Homo sapiens: one gene and its partners. The protein of the gene in region 2 purifies or fractionates together with the protein of the main gene of each other region. This does not show direct contact. Each region holds a gene or a part of one and is shown on either strand. Other genes may lie near its edges.

What was found.
Region 1: the proteins of ALX3 (region 2) and P3H1 purify together in Homo sapiens (affinity purification with mass spectrometry; 2 studies listed by BioGRID and IntAct, with this or other methods). This does not show direct contact.
Region 3: the proteins of ALX3 (region 2) and NDUFAF7 purify together in Homo sapiens (affinity purification with mass spectrometry; 2 studies listed by BioGRID and IntAct, with this or other methods). This does not show direct contact.
Region 4: the proteins of ALX3 (region 2) and CRTAP purify together in Homo sapiens (affinity purification with mass spectrometry; 2 studies listed by BioGRID and IntAct, with this or other methods). This does not show direct contact.

What each region holds. Positions count from the first base shown.
Region 1 is NC_000001.11:42,745,866-42,750,053, forward strand, and holds the end of P3H1 (prolyl 3-hydroxylase 1 isoform 1 precursor), read right to left. Parts: intron 2,453-4,188; coding exon 2,335-2,452; intron 1,934-2,334; coding exon 1,858-1,933; intron 1,548-1,857; coding exon 1,407-1,547; coding exon of another isoform or gene 1,047-1,406; exon of another isoform or gene 988-1,046; coding exon 832-987; 3' UTR 509-831; downstream 1-508. UniProt on the Homo sapiens protein: Basement membrane-associated chondroitin sulfate proteoglycan (CSPG). Has prolyl 3-hydroxylase activity catalyzing the post-translational formation of 3-hydroxyproline in -Xaa-Pro-Gly- sequences in collagens, especially types IV and V.
Region 2 is NC_000001.11:110,060,648-110,067,680, reverse strand, and holds part of ALX3 (homeobox protein aristaless-like 3), read left to right. Parts: intron 1-2,777; coding exon 2,778-3,094; intron 3,095-6,117; coding exon 6,118-6,246; intron 6,247-6,639; coding exon 6,640-6,948; 3' UTR 6,949-7,033. UniProt on the Homo sapiens protein: Transcriptional regulator with a possible role in patterning of mesoderm during development.
Region 3 is NC_000002.12:37,234,630-37,241,662, forward strand, and holds part of NDUFAF7 (protein arginine methyltransferase NDUFAF7, mitochondrial), read left to right. Parts: intron 1-1,466; coding exon 1,467-1,547; intron 1,548-3,127; coding exon 3,128-3,238; intron 3,239-6,948; coding exon 6,949-7,033. UniProt on the Homo sapiens protein: Arginine methyltransferase involved in the assembly or stability of mitochondrial NADH:ubiquinone oxidoreductase complex (complex I).
Region 4 is NC_000003.12:33,109,782-33,117,033, forward strand, and holds the start of CRTAP (cartilage-associated protein isoform 1 precursor), read left to right. Parts: upstream 1-4,232; 5' UTR 4,233-4,296; coding exon 4,297-4,767; intron 4,768-7,252. UniProt on the Homo sapiens protein: Necessary for efficient 3-hydroxylation of fibrillar collagen prolyl residues.

The DNA of each region.
Region 1 (4,188 bases), about 67 Mb from region 2:
TCTGGACCTAGTACCAGGGATGTAGCCAGAGGAGCTGAATCTCCATTTCCAGTGTTTCCTAGAGTGTGTCTTCCTGCACAGGGAGGCCGAGATACAGGACACTGAGGCCAGACGGCAGAGCAGGAAGCATGTGGCTGACATAGGGGTGACGTGCCAGAGCACTGCTGACCGCCGCTCCCTGCCAGAAGAGGATTAACAATAATCCCAACCATTCACCCAGAGCTTTACCGTTTACAAAAGTGTTGTCACATCCGATATTGCATCTGGGCCATACAGCTGCCCCAGAAGGTGAGCAGAGGGAGGACTATGATCCCCATTATACAGATGACAACCCCGAGGTGCTGAAGGTTAAGTGTCTGGCCTGTGGCTGCACAGCAAGTGGTTGAGCCAGGTGCCAAGCCAGGACTTCTCGTCCCACACCTGCCACTGGGTCCTGCCTAGAGCAATTTTTATCAAGTGAGACCTCTGGGACAGAATGGGCAAATTTCCATTGTCTGAACAAACCAAGTAAAAAAAACCATGAATCATTTATTCTTTGGTTGTCTACACAGACACTTAAGTACTGTATCGCTGTCATGCAGCGGCCTGTGGAGGCCCCTGGGGGTGGCTGGGCCTGTGTCCTGAGCCCTCAGCCAGATCCAGGGGGTGCGGTGTCTGGTCATGTCCACTCCAAGAGCAGTAGCACCATGTAGAAGGCTGTGAGCAGGGTCCCCTCGGCTGAGTGGCAGATGTAGGCTCACTGCTCTGCAGCCCCGAGGGGCTGGCCAGCTCAGAGTGCAGAAGAGTTCCTCTCCATGGGTCTAGTCACCCATCCGTCTGACCTGGACGCTGTCATAGCTCATCCTTGGGCTTCGATTCACTGCCTGAGAGAGACTCTTGTGCAGGTTCGGGGGGGCCCTGCTGGGCATCCAGGGGCTGCTCCTGGGAGAGGTCCATCTCTTCTGGGCTGAAGAGCATCTTCACCAGGTCATCTGCCTGCACCCTGTCCTGCAAGGACAAACCCCTGCCCATTCAGAGAGGCCTCCGCTCCAGACACTCGCTATCTCTCAGCTGCTACTTCCCAGGGGACAAGGAAGGTTCCTTAATGGCCCCAGGCTCATCTCCTTCCCAGCAGGTCCTACTCTCTGGAAAAGGACAGCTGAAGTGGGGCCCAAGGAGGGAACCAAGAACTCAGCATCGCTCCCTGTCTTGACCTCTTTCCCCACCTGGATCCCGTTCACAGCAGGCCCAGGGAGGACAAGGCAATGTGACCATAATGACAGGGCGTTGGAGCTGGTGTCCCAAGTGCTCCTTTCGTGTCTCAGCCACTGGCAATGGGATTTGGGGAAGAGAAAGGCAAACCAAGGGCGCTCTGGGAACGGGTCACCACAGCACCAGCTGCTCTCACCCGCTCGAGCTGCTCTCACCCGCTCGCTGTGTCGAGGGTCCAGGGTGAACCACAGGGCGATGGCACAGCGCTGCCCCCTGGTGACAGCCTTCACTCCATGTGGGTTTTCAGTGCCTGAAGAGAATCCCACGGCTCTTCCACACTGAGGCTGCACCTCTGCCTAAGGGGGACAGAAAGGGAGGGGGGTTGCACAGGACAAAGACTGTAATCCACTCTCAGAAGAGACATGGGCTCATTAGGGCTCACGACCGAGGGCAGCTCTTCAGTATGGCTTCCCTAAGACCAGAACTAAAGAGAAAGGGTGACTGGTTAGAGGAGTGATGGACACGTCTCAAAGCCCCTCTGGATGGGGGAAGGGTACCGCCCACTGGGAAGCCCAGTTGGTTATTTTTGTCCACTGCACTTTGGGAACATCAGCTGTAGAAAACAGACTTTTTATCTCCCAGGGACAAGGACAAGGGAGCACTCACCGTCACGGTCTTGGCATCCAGTTCAGTGAAATAAAAGTTTCCGCCATCGAAGTCCCCATTTAGGTAAAGGATGGCGCTGGGAAAGGCAGAGACATCTCATCATGGCCCTTCCCTGCCTCCCTTTCCCCTGAGCCTTCACCTCCAGGTGCTCTCAACCAGCAGCAGGAGGGTGGCTTTGTGTGGGAGGGAAACCTTTAAGAACCTATACTGATGCCGTACAAACTCCACCTTTCCACTCTCCACCCTCGCCTTAGAGTCCCCTGTGCCCACTCACACTACCGTTCTTGTCACACCACGATATGATTCCCTCTTTGCCTATCTTCTTATCCAGCGGGTTTGGGGATAAAGGATTGGACTCTGGGAACAGCTAGCCCCAACCAGTGTGTGTGTGCTAGGGTGGGGTAGTAGAGTGCAGGGCACTGTGGGGCCTCTGAGGAGGGCACAGACCTCCTCACCCTGCACCTGCCCCGCACTCACCTGTAGTCGCGGAAGGTGTAGGCTGGGGGCTCTTTGACACACACGAGGGTCTCGGCATTCAGGATGCAGTTGTCCACGTGGACTGGATGACTATCATCCTTCCTCTCTGCCTGGACCTCTGGGGCCAATGTCACACATGTTAGCAAGGGAGCACCTCGGGAGACGGCATAGCTCTCTTCTTGGCAGGGGAGGTGCTTCCCAAAATGTGTTTGAGTCTACGGAATGCCCAATGAACTAGGGGGGTGTCTTTGGCTAAGCCACAAGCCTAGGGGTCAGGACAAGTCTGCAGGCTTCCTAGGACAGTTCTTGGCAGAAGTGAGCAGGGTGTGGCAAGCAGGAATGAAGGGCTCCAACCAAGGGCAGATCCTGGGCAGAATGGCACAACCCTGGTTTGTAGCTGGACTTTACAAAATACAAAGGCCCAGGGAAGTGAGAATGAGGGATCAGGAGGTGGGACGGACGCAGGGCAGAGTGGGTCAGTCCTCCATCAGGACTGCAGGAGATGGGGCTGAGTGGCAGGAAGTGGGGCAGAGAAGAGCTGGCTAGCAAAGGGAAAGCATGAACTTCAGTGGGGCTCTGGGGTGGGGTGGGTGGAGAAACCATGCAGGGAGAAGGTCACGAAAGGGAACAGACCGGGCTCACTGTCAAATGCCAGGCAGACCACGTCTTTCCCCAACGCAAACCTTTGGCATGCTCTATGTAGGCACCGTCACGTCGTGGTGGGTGCCTCCTTCTCCATTCCCACTTGTCCAGCCAGTCACCAGGTCCTGTCCATCCACCTCCTGCACCTTCCCGGGGCCTCACTTCTCCCTCCTCCCACTGCCACTTCCTGAGTTTAGGGCTTTGCCCTTGTCCACAGAGGTCATTGCTGACCAGCTTCCCTTTTTGGTTTGAAATCTCTCCACACACACAGCAGCAAAATGAATCCTTTAAAAGTCAAGGCCTCACCACGTCCTTCACTGCTTGATGAGGCCTCCCTGGCCTCCTGGCACCTGTGCTTGTGCTCTCCCACCGGGGGCTTGTGACACACCCAGTTGTGTGTCTGACTGGTCCCTTTGGGTGTGCCCAGATTGTGACAGAATTCCAAACATTCTGAGGTAGAGGAAAGCCCTCTGATCTGTGCCACGTACCAATGGCCATCACTGCCAGGGGCCTGCTGGAGGCTCCAGTATGACAGAGCCGGCTCTGGGCCACATAGGATCCTTGCAGCACTAGCTGAACCTCTCCCCTTCTTGGACATGCAAAAGGGAATGTGGGTGGGCGAGGGAATGAGGAATAACCTCCAGGCCACTCTCACTTGTAAATCACGAAGCTCTCTCACAAATTTGGTATTTAACAATTAGTAAAAGAGAATCTGCCACATAGCTATGGTTGAGCTAAAGGATAAAAATTCCCTTGAATGTAGCTCTCCAGGATTTGGCACCTTTCTTAGTTCCCCTGACTACCAGGCTGCACAATGCCTCCACTCCTGTGCAAACACCATCCCACCACCCGGAGTACTCCGTAATCGTATTCATCCTGCAAAACTGCCATTGCTTCCTCTGGGAAGCCTTCTTTTTGTTGTTGTTGTTGTTGTTATTATTTTTGCTTTTAACAAGCCCTTCTGTTGAGGGCTGTCTTTCAACAGATGGCAGCGAGGGAGCTGCTCAGCTATGTATGAAACCCTAACCCGGAGGCAGGTCCTCTATGAATGGTTTAGCACCAGCTTCCCCATTAAAGTGCGTTGTGTGACAAGTGACGGGTGGCCCCCTTTCTGGCTGCACCCCATTTCCCTCTGGGAAGCCTTCTTGATCCCCAGGTAGGTTGACTATAACTTCCTCCATGCTACTGTGGCATGCATCACACTGGGATGCC
Region 2 (7,033 bases):
GCTGCAGCGAAATGTGAAAGCCAAGGCTGGTCCCGCGGTCTCAATGGATGCCTTCTGTGGGGACAGTGGAGCACTCGGGCCTGCTGCGGCGCTGCTTCCTGGCTGCACAGTGGCTTAGAAGCAGCCGCTGGTAGGGGCTCTGGCACTCCTCCGGGTGAGGGGTGCTCAGGGTACGGCAGGCCTGAGAGCTGGGTCAGGGACAGAGAGCTCCTTTACTACGTTAAAAGGCTCCTGGCTTTCACGCCCAACAGCTGCTGCTGTGGCCCTGCGGTTATGCAGGCAGAAGACACCCCAGCGTTGTCTCAGGCTGTCTCCAACATGAGTACCCCGCCTTAACCACCTAGTGTCCGGATCAGGTGCAGTGACTCCTCTGCACAATCCATACACACCTCAGATGTGCCCCGTGCTCAGCAGAGCAGCCCTCACTCCTTTACAAGCTTAGGTTCAAGCTGCTGGCTGCTATTCCTGGCCTGTCTTTCCTGGCTTCTGCCTTCCATTTGTCCCAGTTCTATCCCTTTCCTCTTCTGGGCCTTGCTCCTCAGGAGGCTGCTCTGTGTTCTCTGAGGAGTGCCCCTCTCCCAAAGTGGAGGGATGCCACCCTCCCTCTGGTGTTCTCCAGGTAGATCAAGGAGGTTTCAGGGCAATGACAATGAGGAGAGCAGTTCCGTGGTCCCTTGAGAGGGCTGTAGACTGGGCAGGCATGGGAGTTGGGCATAGGTCAGCAGGCTTAGCCTCTTCTTTGGGGAAGCTGCTCTGAGAAGTCCTACTGCACTTTCATCCCTTGTCCCTGGCAGCTTGGTGGCTCAAGGTCGGGAACGCAAGTCTCAGGGCCCCAGATCTGGTCCCTTCTTCTGGGCAGGTCCTATTGAGACCCAAGAGGCAGATGAGCAAGCCCCAGGGCTTTGGAGGGCCTCTGCCAGGATGTCAGTACTCTTGAACCCCAGCCCTGACCCTCAGCCCTGAGCTACCCTCACCCCTTTTCTGCCTGGAGTCCAGCACAGCCTCCCTACAAACACAAGACACCAAGACTCTTTCTTCTCAGGCTGAACATTTCCATGGCCTGCTGTGTGTATGCATGTGGTGGGGGTGGCGGGGGCGGGGGGGGGGGATGTCCCATTCCAGTGTCCCTAGTCTTCCTATCATTTTCAATTATTTGGTTCAACTTCTGTGAGTCTTCCTTCCTAAGCTTCTATCAAATGGAACTGCCTCTAAACCTGAAATGTGCTGGCCCAAGAATGGAAGTCAGAGACTGGAACACTTTCTCCCCTGTGCTCCACCTGAGTTGTGAAGGAGCCCTGGTCCCTGGGCTGTAGCTGTGGGCTACCTGTGTACAGGCCTGTGTACAGGCTGGGCATGGTCCAAGGCTAGGTAGCCCTGCTCGACTCTCCCAGTCCTCCAGGACACACACCAGGAGCTTATCTCATGGCCTGGGTAGTCCTGGAAAGTAACTGACCACCTTCCAGCTGAGGAGGACCCTGCCCCATTTGTCCTTCACAGTGCAGACAGGGACTCACCAGACCCAGATCCTGAGAGGCCCATTTGTCCAGTCCCATCCTCCCCCAACCACAGCTGTGATCCTGACACCAAGTCCTGGGAAGACACTGCCTCTTGTGCCAGCTAGCTGGGCCTCCTCAGGGCCAGGCCTCCACTGGAGATGGGCCCAGAGCCAGGCAAGAGGCTGTGTGAGTCAGTGGGGCGTCTTTGTGGCGTCTCAGCTGCCATCCCAGTGGACTGTTGAGGAGGGATTTCATGGGGACACCGCTGGGGGTCCTTGCCAGAGGGAGAGGGTGTGGGCAATCAGAGTGACCTATTTTTCACCATGCTCTGTCGGTCGATCCACCATGGTGAGGCTCCGCCAAGCTTCTGGAGTAGGGGTTAGCATGTCAGAGTGGGGCTGCTGGAAACTGTTCCAGTCTGTAATCAAGTCCTTCCCTGCCTGTTAAACACAGGCAATGGGGGAGCAGTTAGAAACTCCTGAGGAAGGAGGGGGTGGTCAATGATGGGAATGATGGGGACAGGGGCTGTGCCCTGTTGTGACACTGGTCCCCAACTCTCCTTCTTTGAGCACAGCCTATCTCAGCTCTGCTTCTCTATTGCTGGAGCTTAAGTCCTTGCCCAGATACCACAATTTTAGGAGGAATGGAGAGAAGCAATCCCTCTGGAAGCTTCTTTGTCCCATCTTGCCCTTCTTACACCAGAGCTGGGGAATTTGATATTGACCTGAGACCTGGGGTTCAGAGAATAAAGCTCAGCCAGACCAGCCAAAGGTGGTCTGAGCACCCACGTCCACAGCCTGCCTGGCCCTGGGAACAGAGGCGTGGGCATAAGGGCCTGGGAACCAAGGCCTGCAGAGTTAGGAACAAGGAAGCACTTTCTGGCAGGAGCAGGAGATGTCAACCACCCCATCCTCACCCCGCCCTCTGCCCCCATTCTTGGCCTTGCCAGGGTGGTGGTCCTGCTGTGGCGCCAGTCCTCTCACGTCCCTGTGGAACGCACCACCACAGAGCACTTCCCCGAAATGAACCCCACTCTGGCCCCAGCAGATCCGCCCAGACCACAGAGCACATAGTTCCCCAGGGCCCCCTCCCCAGCTGGAGGCTCAGCAGGCAGGCCTCTAAATGCCAGGCTCCCATGGAGGGTGGCTGCCAGGAGGAAGGGAAGGGAAAGGAAGGGGGAGGCGGAGACTGAGGCGTCAATGTTCTTCCCCCTCCCTCCATTCCAACCCACAAAAGCCCCTGGTTCAGTTGCCATCCTCCCTTTTGTGTTCTCCATTGCAGCTGAGGAGAAGACCTCCAAAGCTGCCAGCTTCCCCCAGCTGCCCTTGGACTGCCGAGGGGGCCCCAGAGACGGGCCCTCTAACTTGCAAGGCTCCCCAGGCCCCTGCCTGGCCAGCCTGCATCTTCCTCTTTCCCCGGGACTCCCTGACTCCATGGAGTTGGCCAAGAACAAGAGCAAGAAGCGTCGTAACCGCACGACCTTCAGCACATTCCAGCTGGAGGAGCTGGAGAAGGTCTTCCAGAAAACCCACTATCCTGATGTGTATGCCCGGGAGCAGCTGGCCCTGCGCACAGACCTGACTGAGGCCCGGGTACAGGTGAGGGCACTGCAAGGATGGGGCTCTCTGGCTGCCCCTATCACACAGTGACCAGAAAGTGATCTGGAAGGGCTGGGAGAGGTGGGCACTGGTGCCTCCCAGAGCTACCTTTCCCAGGGGCCTGCACCAGCCTTCCCCTCCTGGGCTCACCCTCATGCCCAGCTCTGCTGCAGCCACAGGCTCTTCTGGTCCAAATTGAAGCTTATGCCTGGGTATAAGGGCGATGGCCTCTGGAAGCCATCACCTGTGTGGGAGTCCTAAAGTCTACCACTTACTGGAGGTGATTTGGGGTATGTTAATAGATCTCTCAGTCTCAGTTTCCCAGTTCAGGAAAAGGGAATGATGGGACTGGCTGCGTAGGGACTATCCTGAGGATCACAGGGATGGCCGCATTTTGGAAGCGGTGAAGTGCTGAACACACATCAGGGCTGCTCCTGAGGTGGCTGCCTAGAATGGGAGGGTCCCTGTCAGGAGGTCTCAGGGTTAGTGATTCTCAAAGTCATCAGGAGCCACCGACCTTGGGTCCCTGCCAGCGCTCAGACCCTGGCTGGGAAAGGCTGGCTGGGAAAGGCTGGCTGGGAGCCCTTCCCCATCCTAACAAAATCCCCCATGGAGATCAGGTGCCAGGGCTTCCCAGAGGGGCCGTGGCCAGTTTTACATGGGGGGAGCCCAGCCTGTGGGTAGGTAAATGCTGAGAAGGGAGGAAGGCAAGGGAAGCCCACGTCCAAGCATGCTGGAAGTGTCAAGCACATGAAGGTGGCAAGCAGGCTGGGGATGGGGAAGGAGTTTCAGTAAGAGTCTGGCCCAAGAGGAAGATGGCCATTCACTGGCTTGCACTGAACCGGCTCGATCAAAGCAGGCTTCCCGATACCAAGCAGGAGACACTGGGAGGGGTGGGTTGGAGTTCTGGGGAAAGGTGAGGAGGTGACCTCTTAGGCAGAGGAGTCTCTCTCCCACCATGGAGGAGACTTAGCAGGAACAAAGCTCATGCTATCCCACCCTGCATGGGGCCCTTCCAGAGACCCTTTGTGAAGGCACTAGGGCAGGAGATAGTCCTGGCAGGATATGGGGACTGACAGGCCAGTCTATAAAGAGGCCAGCTGTCATCTAACAGAGAAGGCCCTACGGCTGCATCCAACAGGATGAGAGAGGCTTGGGCTGTTTCCCCTTCTCTGCTGCGTTCTCCTGCCTCCCTGCTCCTCCGAGGAGCCAAAACAGACTTCCAAGACTGTCCCCCAAGGCCTCCAGGGGCTGAGGTCATCAGGGCAAGAGGCCCGGCATTCAAGGCAACCCCAGATGATATAAGCCATGGGAATCAGGACCATGGAGTCACCTCAGCAGGCCTCCGGGGTGTGGTCTAACCAGCTCTTCCCAAAGCAAGTGTTTGTGGGAGGTGGAGAGCACTTCCTCTGCTCCTCTCCTAGGCCTTTTCAACCTGAGAGGGTGCAGGAGTAGCCATGAGGCCCTCACCCCTAGTCTAGAAGCTTCCTGAAGGATGGAGACCCTGGAGTAGGAATGTTTTCTCTGGCAGGGGTGTGAAACCCACCCATACACCCTGCCCTATGGAGAGGAAGAATGAGACTACACACCAGATAATGCAGAGGGCAGGTCCAGAGCCCAGGGGAGGCCTACAGCGGGATCCCCAAGGGAGAATGGGTGGTGACAGAAAAGTGAGTTCCAATAGCCAGATTCACTGGCTGTAAGCTCCCTCATCCTCTGTCAGGGGAGGGAGAGCAGAGAAAGGAAATCCAGGCAGCTGGGCAGGTGGGGGTGGCCTTTTGCTGACCTTGCTGCAGGCCTGCTTTCTTATCTTGGCAATCTGGGAGCTAGGGGGATGGGGTATGCACAGCCCCTTCACTGTTGGTGCCTTACCTGCCTGCATGTGTAGGAATGACCATGGGGGCAGGAAGCCTGATCCCAGCTGGGGTAGACGGATTACTCCACACACACACACACACACACACACACACACACACACACACAGCTTTCTTCTGTTGTGACTCCCAGCTAGATATCCCTGGAAAGCAGGGGTTGTTTTGTTTGGTTGGTTTTATTTTGACATTGTTAAATTTAGCTTAGAGGCTGACACATAAATGTTGATTAAATGATAGAAATACAAAACATATATACCAATACAGTTAAATGTAACAGTCACAGCACATATACCAAACAACGAATTCATCACAGATATGTACACAGATGTGCACAACACACAGATGTGCCACCCCTATCTGCCAAGGGCTCACAAATAAATGGGAGAAACAGATTCCAAAACAGATCATGGTAATGGAATGGGGTGAGTACAAAGAGAGGTCCAGGGTATTTTGGAAGTCCTGTGGAGGATGCCCAGTGTGGATGTATGTGTTGAGGGGATGAGTAGCCCAGGAAGAGAAAACCTAAGCAAAAGATGGAAGGAGCAAGATAGCAGTGTTTCAGAAGAGCTGGGCGGGAGCTTGGGAGGCAACCAGAAGAATAAATGTGTTTGCCTGGCAGGATATGAGGCTGTGCAGAGAGGCAGGGGCCTTGTTAAGAAGCTATGCTCTGGACCAAGGTCTCCAGGGAGTCACTGAGGGTTTAAACAGGACCATGACCTGAACAGAAATGTCTAAGATTCCTCGGATGCTATGAGGTGGGTAGCCTGGAAAAGGAGATGAGGCAGGGAGACTAGAAACCCAACACATGTACACAGTATACCCAGGAAGTACCTAGGGCCCCTGAGGCCCACAGATGCCCCCACAACACCCTTACTAGACACAGCCAGGCTGGAGGACCACAGTGATTCAACCTGGGGAGTGACAGCTGGAGGCCCATGGGGCCAATTACCCACTGTGGGCTTGGGCCTCTCCCAGGCTTCCTCCCAGGCTTCCCTGGCCTGGAGAACAGTGTGGATTAACAGTTGAGATCCTCCATCCTGGAGCCTGCTCCCCATCCCACAAGAGGACACAACCATCAGCTCTCCCTAGCAGGCTCCTTTCCTCAGGGCTGCCCTATCACCCCCTCAAACCCCCACAACCTGCCCCCAGGTCTGGTTCCAGAACCGCAGAGCCAAGTGGCGGAAGCGCGAGCGTTATGGGAAGATCCAGGAGGGGCGGAACCCCTTCACGGCTGCCTATGACATCTCTGTGCTGCCCCGTACTGACAGCCACCCTCAGGTAAGACCCCAGCCCTACCTGAACCAGGACCTGGCAGGGTCACCAAAAAGAATATGAGGTCTGGCCTGAAGAAACCTGGAGAGCGTCAGCGTTCTGTATGACAGTGGGTACACCACTTCACTTCTTTCTCTGCAAACCGGGGCTCTTGCCTGTCTCATGAATGACGCATGCGGAACACAAAGGAATCACAGAAGAAAATTTCGTTTTGAGAACAGTGGCAGGGGCCTCCTGAGATGCCACTGCCAGTGTTGGGGGTGAGAGGGGGTAGATCTGAGCCAAGTGGAGGTTTCCTGGAAAGTTTCTGGGGCCCCAAGGACAAAGAGAAAGCCCCTGGGTAGGGAAGTCAGCTCCTGAGGCTACAGGCTCATGGGCCTTCTTTCCCTCTCTTTTCAGCTGCAGAACTCCCTGTGGGCCAGTCCAGGATCTGGGAGCCCTGGAGGCCCCTGCCTTGTGTCTCCAGAGGGCATCCCCTCCCCATGCATGTCTCCATATTCCCACCCCCATGGGAGTGTGGCTGGCTTCATGGGGGTGCCAGCCCCTTCTGCGGCTCACCCTGGCATCTACTCCATCCATGGCTTTCCCCCCACCCTGGGGGGCCACAGCTTTGAGCCTTCCTCAGATGGTGACTATAAGTCTCCAAGCCTCGTCTCGCTCAGGGTAAAGCCCAAGGAGCCACCCGGCCTTCTGAACTGGACCACGTGATCGGTTGCATGGACCTGCAGAATGAGCTGCCCACCTCTTTTTCCATTCCCAGTCGCTCCCAGCCCACCTCTGCCTCCAAGCCCCA
Region 3 (7,033 bases), on a different chromosome or scaffold from region 2:
GAAAAAATGTTCTCAAAAATGGGAGTGACTTGATTTATTTTGAATGCTGAAGGGGGAAAGTTGAAGCTGGAAGAGAGAAGGGGACAGCTAAAAGGACTCAGGGGAGTTGTATGAGGAATGGTCCAGAGCACAGGCGGAGGGATTAGGTTTGGATGAGAGGAGAAGGGGAAGGCATTTCATTCTTGGAGTCCCCAGATTAGGTTAGAGGCCAGGTGGGGATGGGAAGCTGAGGAATTCGTATTTTATAACATTCTTTAATTCTGGAGTGAGACTGGGGCCCATGTCACCTGTAGTAAGGTGGTAGAATAGGAGCTTGAGAAGCATAAGAAATATTTAACTCAATTCTTGAGTGTTTCTTGAAGGTTAGGCATCGTGCTAAAACTTGGGATATGAAGATAAATAAGGCATGATCTTCTGCAAACAACTATACTTTGTGGTGAAGAACAGAGACAAATTAGCTCAGAAAAGGTGGCACTGGATTTGGCCTTAGGTTGGAGGGCTGGAGGAGGTCAGCTAGGTGGCATTTGAGCAGATTCGGAGGTTGAGTATAAGACTGCCAGGGAAAGTTGAAAAGGGAGAAGGGTGAGGATTTGCAGTGGCATGGATGTCTGGACAAGCAAGGCTAATAAGAAAAAAAAAAACAACCCTTTTTCTGGAGATATAATATTCATATAGAAAAGTTCATAAACCACAAGTTTACAGCTCAATGAATTTTCACAAAGCAAATGCTCCCATGTAACCAGCACCCAAATCAAGAAACAGAACATCACCAGCAGGCAGGGCCCATATGTGAGGCAGAAAGTGTTAGAATTTGGAGAGGAGGCTGGAGGAGTAGGCAGGGTCTTGCTGTGTTGGGTGTGGGAGCTGGGAGGGGAGGAAGGGTCTGGCGTGCAGAGATGGACGTTACATGACTTCTGCCTTTACGGTCAAGGTGTAATTGTTTTTCTACCGGTTTTGTAAAATGACTGTTACTTTGTAAAATTTGGGTAAAGACACCATATTTCCCTTGCTTATTTATTTATTTATTTATTTATTTATTTTTTGAGATGGAGTCTCACTTTGTCACCTAGGCTGGAGTGCAGTGGCGCGATCTCGGCTTACTGCAAGCTCTGCCTCCGAGGTTCACGCCATTTTCCTGCCTCAGCCTCCCAAATAGCTGGGACTACGGGCACCCTCCACCATGCCCGGCTAATTTTTTTGTATTGTTTTTAGTAGAGATGGGGTTTCACCATGTTAGGCAGGATGGTCTCAATCTCCTGACTTCGTGATCCACCCGTCTCGGCCTCCCAAAGTGCTGGGATTACAGGCATGAGCCACCACACCTGGCTCCCCTTGCTTATTTAGAGGAGAGAACTTTCTTACTAAATAATTATTTCACTTTTACATTATTTAAGATTTTGGAGGGGTATTTTTAAAAGGCTTATTTGAAAATTAATTTTGTTTCTCTATTTTCTCTTTTTACTCAGGGTTATTATGTGTACCGTGACATGCTAGGCGAAAAAGGAGATTTCATTACTTCACCTGAAATAAGTCAAATCTTTGGGGAGGTAATATACTATGTAAAGTATGAATGAAGCTAATATAAACATTTGAGAGCAGATCAAATTGTATTATTCTGTAGTAGTGTTCTACAGCTTTTTTTGTGATTCATCAAAAGTTTTAACTTTATAGTAGTTTATGTACTGAGGGAATAGAGAGGCAGTAGAGGGGAGTAAAATGGTAGAGAGAATATTTGAAAAGTTTATACTCCACTGTAGGAAGGGAAATGGAGAGATAAGAGGGACAAAGAGAAAGAGAAGGAAAGGAGGGGGTCATAAAGAGGACAGAAAAAGGAGAATCAGATGAAGGAAGAGAATGGAAGAAGGGGCCAGGCGTAGTGGCTCACACCTGTAATCCCAGCACTTTGGGAGGCCGAGGCAGGCGGATCACAAGGTCAGGAGATCAAGACCGTCCTGGCTAACACGGTGAAACGCAGTCTCTACTAAAAAAAAAATACAAAAAATTAGCCGAGCGTGGTGGCGGTCGCCTGTAGTCCCAGCTACTTGGGAGGCTGAGGCAGGAGAATGGCGTGAACCCGGGAGGCGGAGCTTGCAGTGAGCCAAGATGGCGCCACTGCACTCCAGCCTCGGCGACTGAGCAAAACTCCGTCTCAAAAAAAAAAAAAGAGAATGGAAGAAGGAAGAGAGACAAAAGGAAAGGCGAGGAAAGAGGTAGAGTGCCCAGGAGAGTGCCCGGGAAGGAAGAGAGAAAAGATAAAGAGCATTGAAGAATTAGTGGAATTAAGAGAAGCTCTAAAGCTCCCAGTCATGATTTTAGCCGTACTTACAGTAAAAGTCTTCTTTTATTTATCTATTTTTTGAGCCAGGGTTTTGCTCTTATTGCCCAGGCTGGAGTGTAGTGGCGCAATCTCGGCTCACTGTAACCTCTGCTTCCCGGGTTCAAGCGATTCTCCTGCCTCAGCCTCCCGAGTAGCTGGGATTACAGGCATGTGCCACCACTCCTGGCTAATTTTGTATTTTTAGTAGAGACAGAGTTTCTCCATGTTGGTCAGGCTGGTCTTGAACTCCCGACCTCAGGTGGTCCACCCGCCTCAGCCTCCCAAAGTGCTGGGATTATAGGCGTGAGCCACCACGCCCAGCCAAGTCTTCCTTTAATAAACAGAATTCTAATTCATTTCCACTAAGTACCTTCTATGAATTTAGAAATAGGAAATAGTGTATACGAGGAAGTAGAATGTGCGTATCGAAAAACATTAGTTATTATAAGAATCATGTAATTGTTTAAATCATATGAATATGAAGAAATGGCATAATCACATTTCATATGTTTATTTGCTTTCAAATACTAATACCTTTCTGCTAGTGATATCCTCTTATCTATGTCATGGGACCTTTTATAGCAGAGGCTGCCTTATTTTTTCCTATTAATCTTCCTAAATGGTGTATGTTATGATGTAGTCCCAGGAAGTTCCTATGTGAACATGTACGTATGTATTGAACAACATACATATGGCTGTACACATTTTGCTTTTTGGCATATAGTGCATATTTATGTGAAATTTTATATTGTGGTATACTTTTATACTTTATAATACTTTAATATGTGTTTTTTTTTTCCCTTTTCACAGCTACTAGGTATATGGTTCATTAGTGAATGGATGGCCACTGGAAAAAGCACAGCTTTCCAGCTGGTGGAACTGGGCCCAGGTAGGGGAACCCTCGTGGGAGATATTTTGAGGGTAGGTAATAAAAGAATGTCTTCTAGTCTCATATAAGTGAATTTTAGTACTTCTGAGTGTGCAAACCATGTTGATTTCATTGGTTTTCAGTTCCTTAATTTCATATTTCTCAGCTAAAATATAATGTCAGAATAATGTAATCAGTCATTACTTACTGTTGTCTGTAAACTTAAAAATTGGAGGGGAGGGGGAGAATATGAAAGCTAAAAATAGGAAACATTTAGAAGACATTATGGGAGAGTGTATTTGTTTCCTCAGGAAGGAAAGTTGTTAATTATATTAAAAGTTTAGGCCAGGCATGGTGGCTCAATCCTAGCACTTTGAGAGGCCAAGGTGGGCAGATCACAAGGTCAGGAGTTCGAGACCAGCCTGACCAACATAGTGAAACCCCGTCTCTAGTAAAAATACAAAAATTAGCTGGGCATGGTGGTGTGCATCTGTAATCCAGCTACTCAGGAGGCTGAGGCAGGGAATCGCTTGAACCCAGGAGGCAGAGGTTGCAGTGATTGCTGCAGTGATTGATTGCAGAGCTGAGATTGCGCCATTGCACTCCAGCCTGGTGACAGAGCGAGACTCCGTCTCAAAAAAAAAAAAAAGTTTAGGCTGGGCAAAGTGGCTCATGCCTGTAATCGTAGCACTTTGGGGGGCCAAGGTGGGAGGATTGCTTGAGGCCAAGAGTTCAAGACCAACCTGGCCAACAAAGCAAGACCTCGTCTCTTTTTATATTAAAAAAAAAAAAAGCAGAAGGCATAAAGCAAAAGATTAATATTTCATTTCTTACATTAAAATTAAAAACTTCTTGCTCTACAAATAAACTAGCAGCTTTTTGTTCTTCAGAGACCCCATTAAGAGAGTGATTAGACAAGCCACAGAGTGGGAGAAGTTATTTGTAACACGTAACCAACAGAGAACTAGTAGTTAGAATTATTTAAATAACTCCTTTAGGTCAGTAAGAAGACAGATAACTTGAGAAAAATCAGGCCAAAGATGTGAACAAGTCCATTCATAAAAGAGGAAAATACAAACGGCTAAAAAAGCAAAAAAAAAAAAAAAAAGATTAGTCACATTGGTAGTCAGGAAGATGAAAATTAAAATCACAATGAGATACTACTGTAACCCTTGCCAGATTAGAAAAAAAAGCTAAAAGTCTGTCAACACCAAGTATTGGTGAAGATGTGGATTTGTGGATCAATGGCAACTCTCATATACTGCTTGTAAAACTATAATTTAGTACATCCTTTTTTCTTTCTCTTTTTTTTTTTTTTTTTTGAGACACAGTCTCACTTTGTCACTCAGGCTGGAGTGCAGTGGTACGATCTTGGCTCACTGCAACCTCTGCCTCCCAGGTTCAGGCGATTCTTGTCCCTCAGCCTCTTGAGTAGCAGGGATAATAGGCGTGGATCACTACACCCGGCTAATTTTTTTATTTTTAGTAGAGAAGGGGTTTTACCATGCTGGCCAGGCTGATCTTGAACTCTTGGCTTGAAGTGGTCCGCCTGCCTCGGCCTCCCAGAGTGCTGGGATTACAGGCATGAGCCCCCGTACCCAGCCTTGTACAACCTTTTTGAAAAGCTATTGGCCATTATCTATTAACATCAAAGTTTCTTATATTGTATGACCCAGCAATTTTACTGCTAGTGATATACCCTAGAGAAACTAGTGTATATGTGTACCAGGAGACACATACAAGAAGATAGCAGCATTGTATAAAATAGCGGAAAATAACAGCACAAATGCCCATCGGGGGGTAAATGAATCAGTTAATTGTGGTATAGTCATACAGTGGAATACGAAGTACTGCAAGAATGCGTGAAATCACAGTGGAATATAACAGTGTTCAACATGAAACAAGATGTGTGAAAGTAGCAGTTTGCAAGAGTTCGTATCATATGATTGTATTTATATAAAATCCAAAAAATAGTCAACATTAAACAATATGTATTTGGTGATAAAAATATATTTAGTAACATTTATAAAGAAAAGTCAGGGTGTTATTAACTCAAGATTCAGAATGGTGGTGACTTCCAAGGGTAGAGGGAGTCCACAGGGGCTTTGGAGATAAGGTCATGTCCCATTTATGGTAGATATTCTCTCTTGTATCATTGTTTCTATCAGTCTACGTACTATTTTATGAAAACATTAAAAAGGAGGACAGTTGTTTATAGTACCTGATAAGTAATAGTATTTATTAAACTTTTGTAGTTTTTAGTATTTTGGAACTCATTAGTGTTTTTGAGTTTATTTTATATGTACTTGACAATTCAATGTAAAAAACAAACATGGCTGGGCGCAGTGGCCCATGCCTGTAATCGCAGCACTTTGGGAGTTCGAGGCTCCCAAAGTTCAAGATCAGCTTGGGCAATACGGTGAAACTCCATCTCTACAAAAAATACAAAAATTACCCAGTCGTGGTAGCATGCGTCTGTGGTCGAAGCTAGTTGAGGGGCTGAGATGGGAGGATTGCTTGAGCCCAGGAGGTTGAGGCTGCAGTGAGCTGTGATTATGCCTCTGAGTAACAAAGTGAGACCCTGTCTCAAAAAAAAAACCAAAAAACACCAACACATACTCAATATAAATTTAAATTTCTTGATGCTTTATGGTTTTTGCTTTAAATTAGAAATTAAAGGATTTAAAAAATATATAAAATATATAAACATATGACAAATAAGAATCTTGATTATTTGGGTGAAGAAAGAAAACAAAATCACGAATTTAAATTTCCAGGGCTCTATTTTATGTTTTTCAGCAAGGTCATTTGAATATAAAATATTTAATAAGGACCTCAAATCATATTCTCTTGTTCAAGTACTTTAAAAGTTGATTCCAGAGCCCTTAAAATGTATGAAGGATGCTTTTCCAGACTGAGTCATAAGAAGTCCTAAAAGCCAAAGAATTTAAAGGGTTGTAAAGCAAATAGCCAGAGAAGTGTCAGACCTGTTTTATTTTTGATGTTACCTTCTGAAGGAATTTCTCCTGGGAAGTTTTTCCATTTGTATTTCGATCTCAAAACTAAATTTGGAAAAATCATCTTGTTCATATTATCAGTCTGGATGTGCATATTCATATCTCAAAAGTATTAATTGGAGGCAGATCACCAGTAGAAATTAAATTCAAATGAAAAATAATGTTGATACACTTTATGCTTTTGCTATTGATTTTTTAGCCTTAAAAGATTGGTAAAATATTAGTATTTTCCTTTTTCCCTTGCATGTTTACAACAGTGAAAAAATGTGTAGCTAAATATAGATTGAAAATGTGGCAGACCCCCGAGTTAAGCAGTCAGGTTTTCAGTACCATTCAGATTTGGTTCTTTGAGGTTAGAGTTCTCATCATCTCAAAGATGAGATTACTTCCTAGACCTAGAGATGTTATCAAATCAAGGCTGTGTACATTTTATTTCCTTGGTCTTTTTTTAGACTCCATAATCTGAATCATTGTTTTTATCAGATGCCAAATCTTTTATTTTCATTTGTTAATCATAATTTATCATTAGGAAACCAAATTGTGCATTGTTCATTTCTTATTTAGATTATGCTTAATAACTAGTAGGTTAGGATTCTTATAGACTGCTGGAGAGTGGCTTGGGTAAGGAACACATCTCTCTGAAATATTACCTCTATTGTGACATGACTAAATCATTGATGTAAATGATTAGGAAACTTAAAACCTACTTAACACATTGTATTTTTTTTTCTTCTTTTGGTATTTAGGTGTTCACTCAACTTGGATCTGTGCTGAAAAATTGTGACATTTCAGTACATCTGGTAGAGGTAAGCCAAAAATTAAGTGAGATTC
Region 4 (7,252 bases), on a different chromosome or scaffold from region 2:
ACTGGAAACCACTATCCTAAGTTTCTGTTTATCATTTCCCTCCCCTGCCCTCCCCTCCCCTTCCCTCTTTCTCTCTTTCTTTCCTTCCTTCTTTCTTTTTTCTTTTTTTTGAGAGAGTCTTGCTGTGTCGCCCAGGCTGGAGTGCAGTGGCACAATCTCGCCCCACTGCAACCTCTGTCTTCTGGGTTCAAGCTGTTCTCCCACCTCAGCCTTCCCAGTAGCTGGGATTACAGGCATGTGCCACCACACCCAGCTAATTTTTTGTATTTTTAGTAGAGACAGGGTTTCACCATGTTGGCTAGGCTGGTCTCCAACTCCTGACCTCAAGTGATCCACCCATCTTGGCCTCCCAAAGTGCTGGGATTACAGGTGTGAGCCACCGCGCCCAGCCTATCATTCTCTTTTCAATATAGTTTTACCCTGTATAAGGTAGGACTATATTATTTTTACTCCTAAATAATACATTGTGTGTTTTTCCATATTTTAAAACTTTAGGGTCGGGCGTGGTGGCTCACACCTGTAATCCCAGCACTTTGGGAGGCCGAGGTGGATGGATCACAAGGTCAGGAGTTCAAGACCAGCCTAGCCAAGATGGTGAAACCCTGTCTATACTAAAAACTACAAAAATTAGCCAGGTGCAGGCCGGGTGCAGTGGCTCACGCATGTAATCCCAGCACTTTGGGAGGCCGAGATGGGTGGATCACTTGAGGTCAGGAGTTTGAGACCAGCCTGACCAACATGGTAAAACCCCATCTCTACTAAAAATACAAAATATTAGCCAGCTGTGGTGGCGGGCGCCCGTAATCCCAGCTACTCAGGAGGCTGAGGCAGGAGAATTGCTTGAAACTGGGAGGCAGAGGTTGCAGTGAGCCGAGATCGCACCACTGTACTCCAGCCTGGGCGACAGAGTGAGACTCAGTCTTAAAAAAAAAAAAAAAAAAATTAGCTGGGTGTGGTGGCAGGTGCCTGTAATCCCAGCTACTCGGGAAGCTGAGGCAGGAGAATCGCTTGAACCCGGGCGGTAGAGGTTGCAGTGAGCCAAGATGGCGCCACTGCACTCCAGCCTGGGCGACAGAGCGAGACTCTGTCTCAAAAAAAAAAAAACAAAAAACAAAAAACAAACAAACAAAAAAACTTTAGGCAAATGGAATCATTCTCAATGGTTCCCCCCCGCCCCCAGATTGAACTGTTATTTGTAGCTCTAATTCTTTCATTTTCCCTGCTATAATATATTCTTCTATATGCATTTACTCTCATTTTTTTTTAAATCTACTCTTCTGTTTATGGACAGGTTATTCCTGCTTTCTGCCATTAAGAACAATGTTGCGTTACCTTACTGTAGACACTTGTTAATTACAAAAGAAAACAAATGAAGTAGGGAAAACAGACATCACCTTAATAAAGTGATCAAAATTAACACAGACAAGGGGTGGGCATTGTGTTATTTAGATTTTACACCTGAGACGGATGGCACATTGCTTCTGTGGCATTCTAGCCAAAGAGCTTAATCTGAATTTAGTCATGAGCTTAATCTGAATTTAGTCATGAGCTTAATCTGAATTTAGTCATGAGGAAACATCAGGAAAACCTCAAATGAGGAACTTTTTATAAAGTTAACTGGCCTGTGTTCTTTAAAAAAAAAAAAAAAAAAAGGCCAGGCGCGGTGGCTCATGCCTGTAATCCCAGCACTTTAGGAGGCCGAGGCAGGTGGATCATGAGGTCAGGAGTTTGAGACCAGACTGACCAATACGGTGAAACCAGTCTCTACTAAAAATACAAACATTAGCCTGGCATGGTGGCACGGGCCTGTAATCTTAGCTACTCAGGAGGCTGAGGCAGGAGAATCGCTTGAACCCTGGAGGTGGAGATTGCAGTGAGCTGAGATCATGCCATTGCACTCCAGCCTCTGCAGCAGAGCGAGACTCCATCTCAAAACAAAACAAAAAACAAAAAAAAGACTTTATTTTTTAGAGTGGTTTTAGATTCATAGCGAAACTGAGCGGAAACTACAGAGTTCAAATATACTCCATGACCCTACAACATGCGCAAGCTCCCCCACTGTCAATGTCTTGCACTAGAATGGTACATTTGTTACAATCAATGAACCTACATCAACACATCGTTATCACCCAAAGTCCGGTTTACATTAGGGCTCACTCTTAGTGTTGTACATATTATGGATTTTAACAAATGTATAGCATATATCCACCATTATACTATCATATAGAATAGTTTCACTGCTCCAATAATCCTGTCCTCTACCCATTCATTCCTCCCTTTCCATAATTCTCAGCAACCACTGATCCTTTTACTGTCTCCATAGTTTTGCCTTTTCCAGAATGTCATTTGGCTGGAATCACACAGTATGTAGCCTTTTCAGTTTGGCTTCTTTCAACCAGTAATATGCATTTAAGACTTCTCCATGTCTTTTCATGGCTTGATAGCTCATTTCTTTTTGGCTTGGAATAAAATTCCATTGTGTGTATATACCACAGTTTATGTATCCACTTACCCACTGAAGGACATCTTGGTTGATTCCAAGTTATGGTAATTGTGAATAAAGTTGCTACAAACATCCATTCGCAGGTGTGTGCATAAGTTTTAACCCATTTGGGTAAATACCAAGAAGTGCAATTTCTGGATTGTATGAGTAGAGTATGCCTAGTTTTGTAAGAAACGGCCCAACTGTCTTCTAAACTGTATGTACCATTTTGCATTGCCACTATCAATGAATGAGAGTTCCTGTTGCTCCACATCCTTGTCAGCATGTGACGTTGTCAGTGTTTTGGATTTTGTAGTGGTATCTCATTGCTGTTTTGGCCTATATTTTTCAAAAATGACAACGGCATGACAAGAAAAGCCGAGGAACCAGTTTAAAGGATATGAAATAGACTAGATGTAACAGTGATCACGGATGGACTGCATCCTAAGAGAAAAAAGTGCCATGAAAGACATAATTGGAACAGCTGACATAACCGGAAATGGAACATGATTAAAGTCTTCTATCAGTATTAAATTTCCTAAATTTGATTGTCTGGTAGTTTCATTCTTAGGACATACATACTGAAAGACTAAGGGGTTGGGCACGGTGGCTCACGCCTGTAATCCCAGCACTTTGGGAGGCAGAGGCAGGTAGATCACCTAAGGTCAGGAGTTCAAGAACAGCCTGGCCAACATGGCAAAACCTCATCTCTAGTAAAAAATAGAAAAATTAGCCAGGTATGGTGGTGTGTGCCTATGATCCCAGCTACTCGGGAGGCTAAGGCAGGGAGAATTGCTTGAACCCGGGAGGCGGAGGTTGCAGTGAGCCGAGATCGCGCCACTGCACTCCAGCCTGGGTGACAGGGCGAGACTCCGTCTCAAAAAAAAAAAAAGGAAAAAAAAAAAGAAAAAAAAAAGACTAACGGACAGTGGGCCTGATACATGCAACCTATCTCAAATGAGTCAGAAAAAAATGTAAAGATAGAAATGTGGTATAACGTTAGCAACTTGTGAATCTTGATGAAGGGTATATAGGAACTTTTTGTACTGTTTTTGCAGCTTTCTTGTAAATTATTTCAAGATTTAAAAGTTTAAAGATTTTTTAAAAGTGCTGCCATTAACATTCCATCCATATTTTTTGATGCACACGCGCAAGCTTCTCCAGCATATTCCACCGAATGGTGTTGCAGATTCATAAGGTGTGCACATCTTCAACCTGACTAGCTATACAGTTTACAAAGTGCTGACATCCTTATTAATTTTATTTTTGCACTGTCTTTTTCTCTCACTAAAATTTAAGGTTGGGCAGTGCTATTAAAAGTGCGGCCCTTGGGCCCGCAGCATTAGCCTCATCAGGGTGCTGGTTAAACACACAAATCGTCAGACCTCCACCCCAGACTTTCTGAATCAGAAACTCTGGGGGCACAGCCCAGGAATCTTCGTTTTCACAAACCTCCAAACGAATATAAAGATCGTAGATTATATAGACCGTAGGGCCGATGTATATAATCTATTAGGGCCGCGTCGGCCTTGCAGGCGGGTCTCCAAGTGAATGAGCGGCAGAGTCCCATCATGCGCATCAGCCTGCGTGAACCAGTGCGCAGCGCGCCTTTCCCGGGCACCCTCTAGGTGCTGGCAGCTGGCGCCCAGATCCCCCGGCTGGGTGGGGAGGGGCGGCCGGACGGGGCGGGCCGGAGGCTGGCGTCCCCGCCCCGAAAGCACTGGGCCCGCCGCGTCGCACCGTCCTCTTTCCTTTCCTTCTCCCTCCCCTTTTCCCTTCCTTCGTCCCTTCCTTCCTTCCTTTCGCCGGGCGCGATGGAGCCGGGGCGCCGGGGGGCCGCGGCGCTGCTAGCGCTGCTGTGCGTGGCCTGCGCGCTGCGCGCCGGGCGCGCCCAATACGAACGCTACAGCTTCCGCAGCTTCCCACGGGACGAGCTGATGCCGCTCGAGTCGGCCTACCGGCACGCGCTGGACAAGTACAGCGGCGAGCACTGGGCCGAGAGCGTGGGCTACCTGGAGATCAGCCTGCGGCTGCACCGCTTGCTGCGCGACAGCGAGGCCTTCTGCCACCGCAACTGCAGCGCCGCGCCGCAGCCCGAGCCCGCCGCCGGCCTCGCCAGCTATCCCGAGCTGCGCCTCTTCGGGGGCCTGCTGCGCCGCGCGCACTGCCTCAAGCGCTGCAAGCAGGGCCTGCCAGCCTTCCGCCAGTCCCAGCCCAGCCGCGAGGTGCTGGCGGACTTCCAGCGCCGCGAGCCCTACAAGTTCCTGCAGTTCGCTTACTTCAAGGCAAGTCCGCCTCGCCCCGTCCCAGGCCCCGGCCCCGCCCCTGACCCAGCCTCCAGGCCCTAGCCCCGCCCCTGCGCCCGGGGCCGCGTTGCCCCTCCAGTTCTAGACCTGGCTCCCTCCCATCCAGCCCTGCCAAAGGTCTCCTCCAAGTCCTGTCTCCTTCTTCATCTCAACTAGAGATGAAAATGCCTTTCTTGAAGGGTAACTCTAAGGTAGAGAATACGTACACAGAACGCAGTACAGCGCCAGGCACCCAACAAAGTGCCTGATAAATGTTCTCTGTTATTTGAGGGCAGACGCCTCTTTTCTGTATATACCATTAAAGTCGCCTTTTTTCTCAAGTGAGCGGTGACTTGCGATAATAAAGCAGAAGACCTGAGGAGCCGACAAGTACCTTTTATTTTTATTTTTTGTTGAGACAGGGTCTCACAGTCGCCCAGGCTGGAGTGCAGAGGCGCTATCATGGCTCACTGCAGCCTTGACCTCCTCAGGCTCAGGTGATCCTCCACCTCAGCCTCCTGAGTAGCTGGGATTATAGGCGCGCGCCACCACACCTAGCTAATTTTTTGGTATTTTCTGTAGAGACAGAGTTTCGCCACGTTGCCCAGGCTGATCTCGAACTCCCGGACTCAAGTGATCCTCCCACCTCGCCTCCCAGAGTTCTGGGATTACAGTCGTGAGCCATTGCACCCAGCTGACTAGTTCCTTTTAAAGAGGATGAAATTGAGGCCAGGGAAGGGCAGGGACTCCTTGCAAGGACACATCCCTGCTTAAAGGGGAACTCGTGCACCGTGAGTCATCAGGATTGGCCCTCTCCGCTGTTTCTCTCTTTCATCTAGAATTTAACACAGTTCACTGCCTCCTTTTAATGGCTGCTTAAGTTCTCTCTGTGATTGCTGGCTAAAAATAGCCACAAATTGCAGTTCTCTATCCTATGGGTTCTCACTCCGAGGACCCACAAGTTTTAAGAATGGTTAGATTCCCTGTCACTAGATAAAGAGGCTCTAGCTTGGTGGGTCCTCACAGGGTTTGGCTAAAAGAGCCCTCTCAAAGCCCAGTTTCTACTTTCTCTGAGAAAGATTTTAAAAGGAATATATTGTGTTTTTTAAAATTACTACAAAAATAGATTCATGGCATATCCTAGACTCTTGAGGTAGAAGGTTTTTGTTTTTAAACTTTGTTTTCAGTTTCTGGACTGCAAGATCTGTTTTTTCAGATTTCCACCGAGACAGAGCCACGTGTATATTGTATTTATATGAGCAATAAAATAACACAAAACCCCAAAGAGGGGAAAAGCTGGGTTACTTCTATACTTCTATGCTTAGTTACAGTTTTATTTAAAGTATCAGTTTTGTGAATGTTTGTTCTGGCAATTAAAAAAAAACAGTTTTAAAACAGAAGCAGGGAATGAGATTAATAAAATTCCAGAATGTTGAAAATGAGGGCTGGTTCATACAAAGCATCATTTTTTAAGCTAAAAATGACTTATCTAATTCTTTTTTTGTATAGCTTTTGGCAAATATGTTCTGAACCAAATTTAGGTCACATAATCAAGAGGAAATCATTTTATTTTTAAACCTAGAGAATACTAGAACCTCTGATTTCTTTAATATACAGATGAATTTGAACAAGTGTTACAGGGAAGAGGGGAAGAACATTTTACTCAATGTGACCAAAAGGCATGGGTTTTCTCTTTCATCATGGTGGCCCCAAAAGGTTAGGATGGTCATAGCTTCTCTTCAAAACCCTTTACAGGTCTTGTAACAATCACTTAGTTGAAAGTCAGTAAAATACTATCTATCTATCTGTCTATCTATCTGTTTTTTTTGAGACACAGTTTCACTTTGTCACCCAGACTGGAATGCAGTGGCACGATCTCAGCTCGCTGCAACCTCTGCCTCCAGGGTGCAAGCAATTCTTGTATCTCAGCCTCCTGAGTAGCTGGGATTACGGGCATGTGCCACCACACCCAGCTAATTTTTGTATTTTTAGTAGAGATGGGGTTTCACCATGTTGGCCAGGCTGGTCTCGAACTTCTAACCTCAAGTGATCCACCTACCTTGGCCTCCCAAAATGCTGAGATTACAGTCTGGGATTTGAACCACCATGCCCGGCCACCATCTTAACATTTTGAGATCTCATATAGGGCAGGAAAAAGCTAAGAATTTTATTAATAAACGTGAATGTTACTTAATTGTTTCAATGGAAGATATAACTGAAAAAGTAATTTTTGGTGGAGATATTGTATGGTGTATTTTTTCTCAATGATGTTTATGGCTTGGCATGATGGCTCATGCCTATAATCCCAGCACTTTGGGATGCCAAGGTGGGAGGATCTCTTGAGTCCAAGAGTTCAAGACCAGCCTGGGCAATATAATGAGATCTCATCTGTACAAAAACATTAAAAAATTAGCCGGGTGTGGTGGCGTGCCTTTCTAGTTTCAGCTACTCAGGAGGCTGAGGCTGGAGGATCACTTGAGCCCAG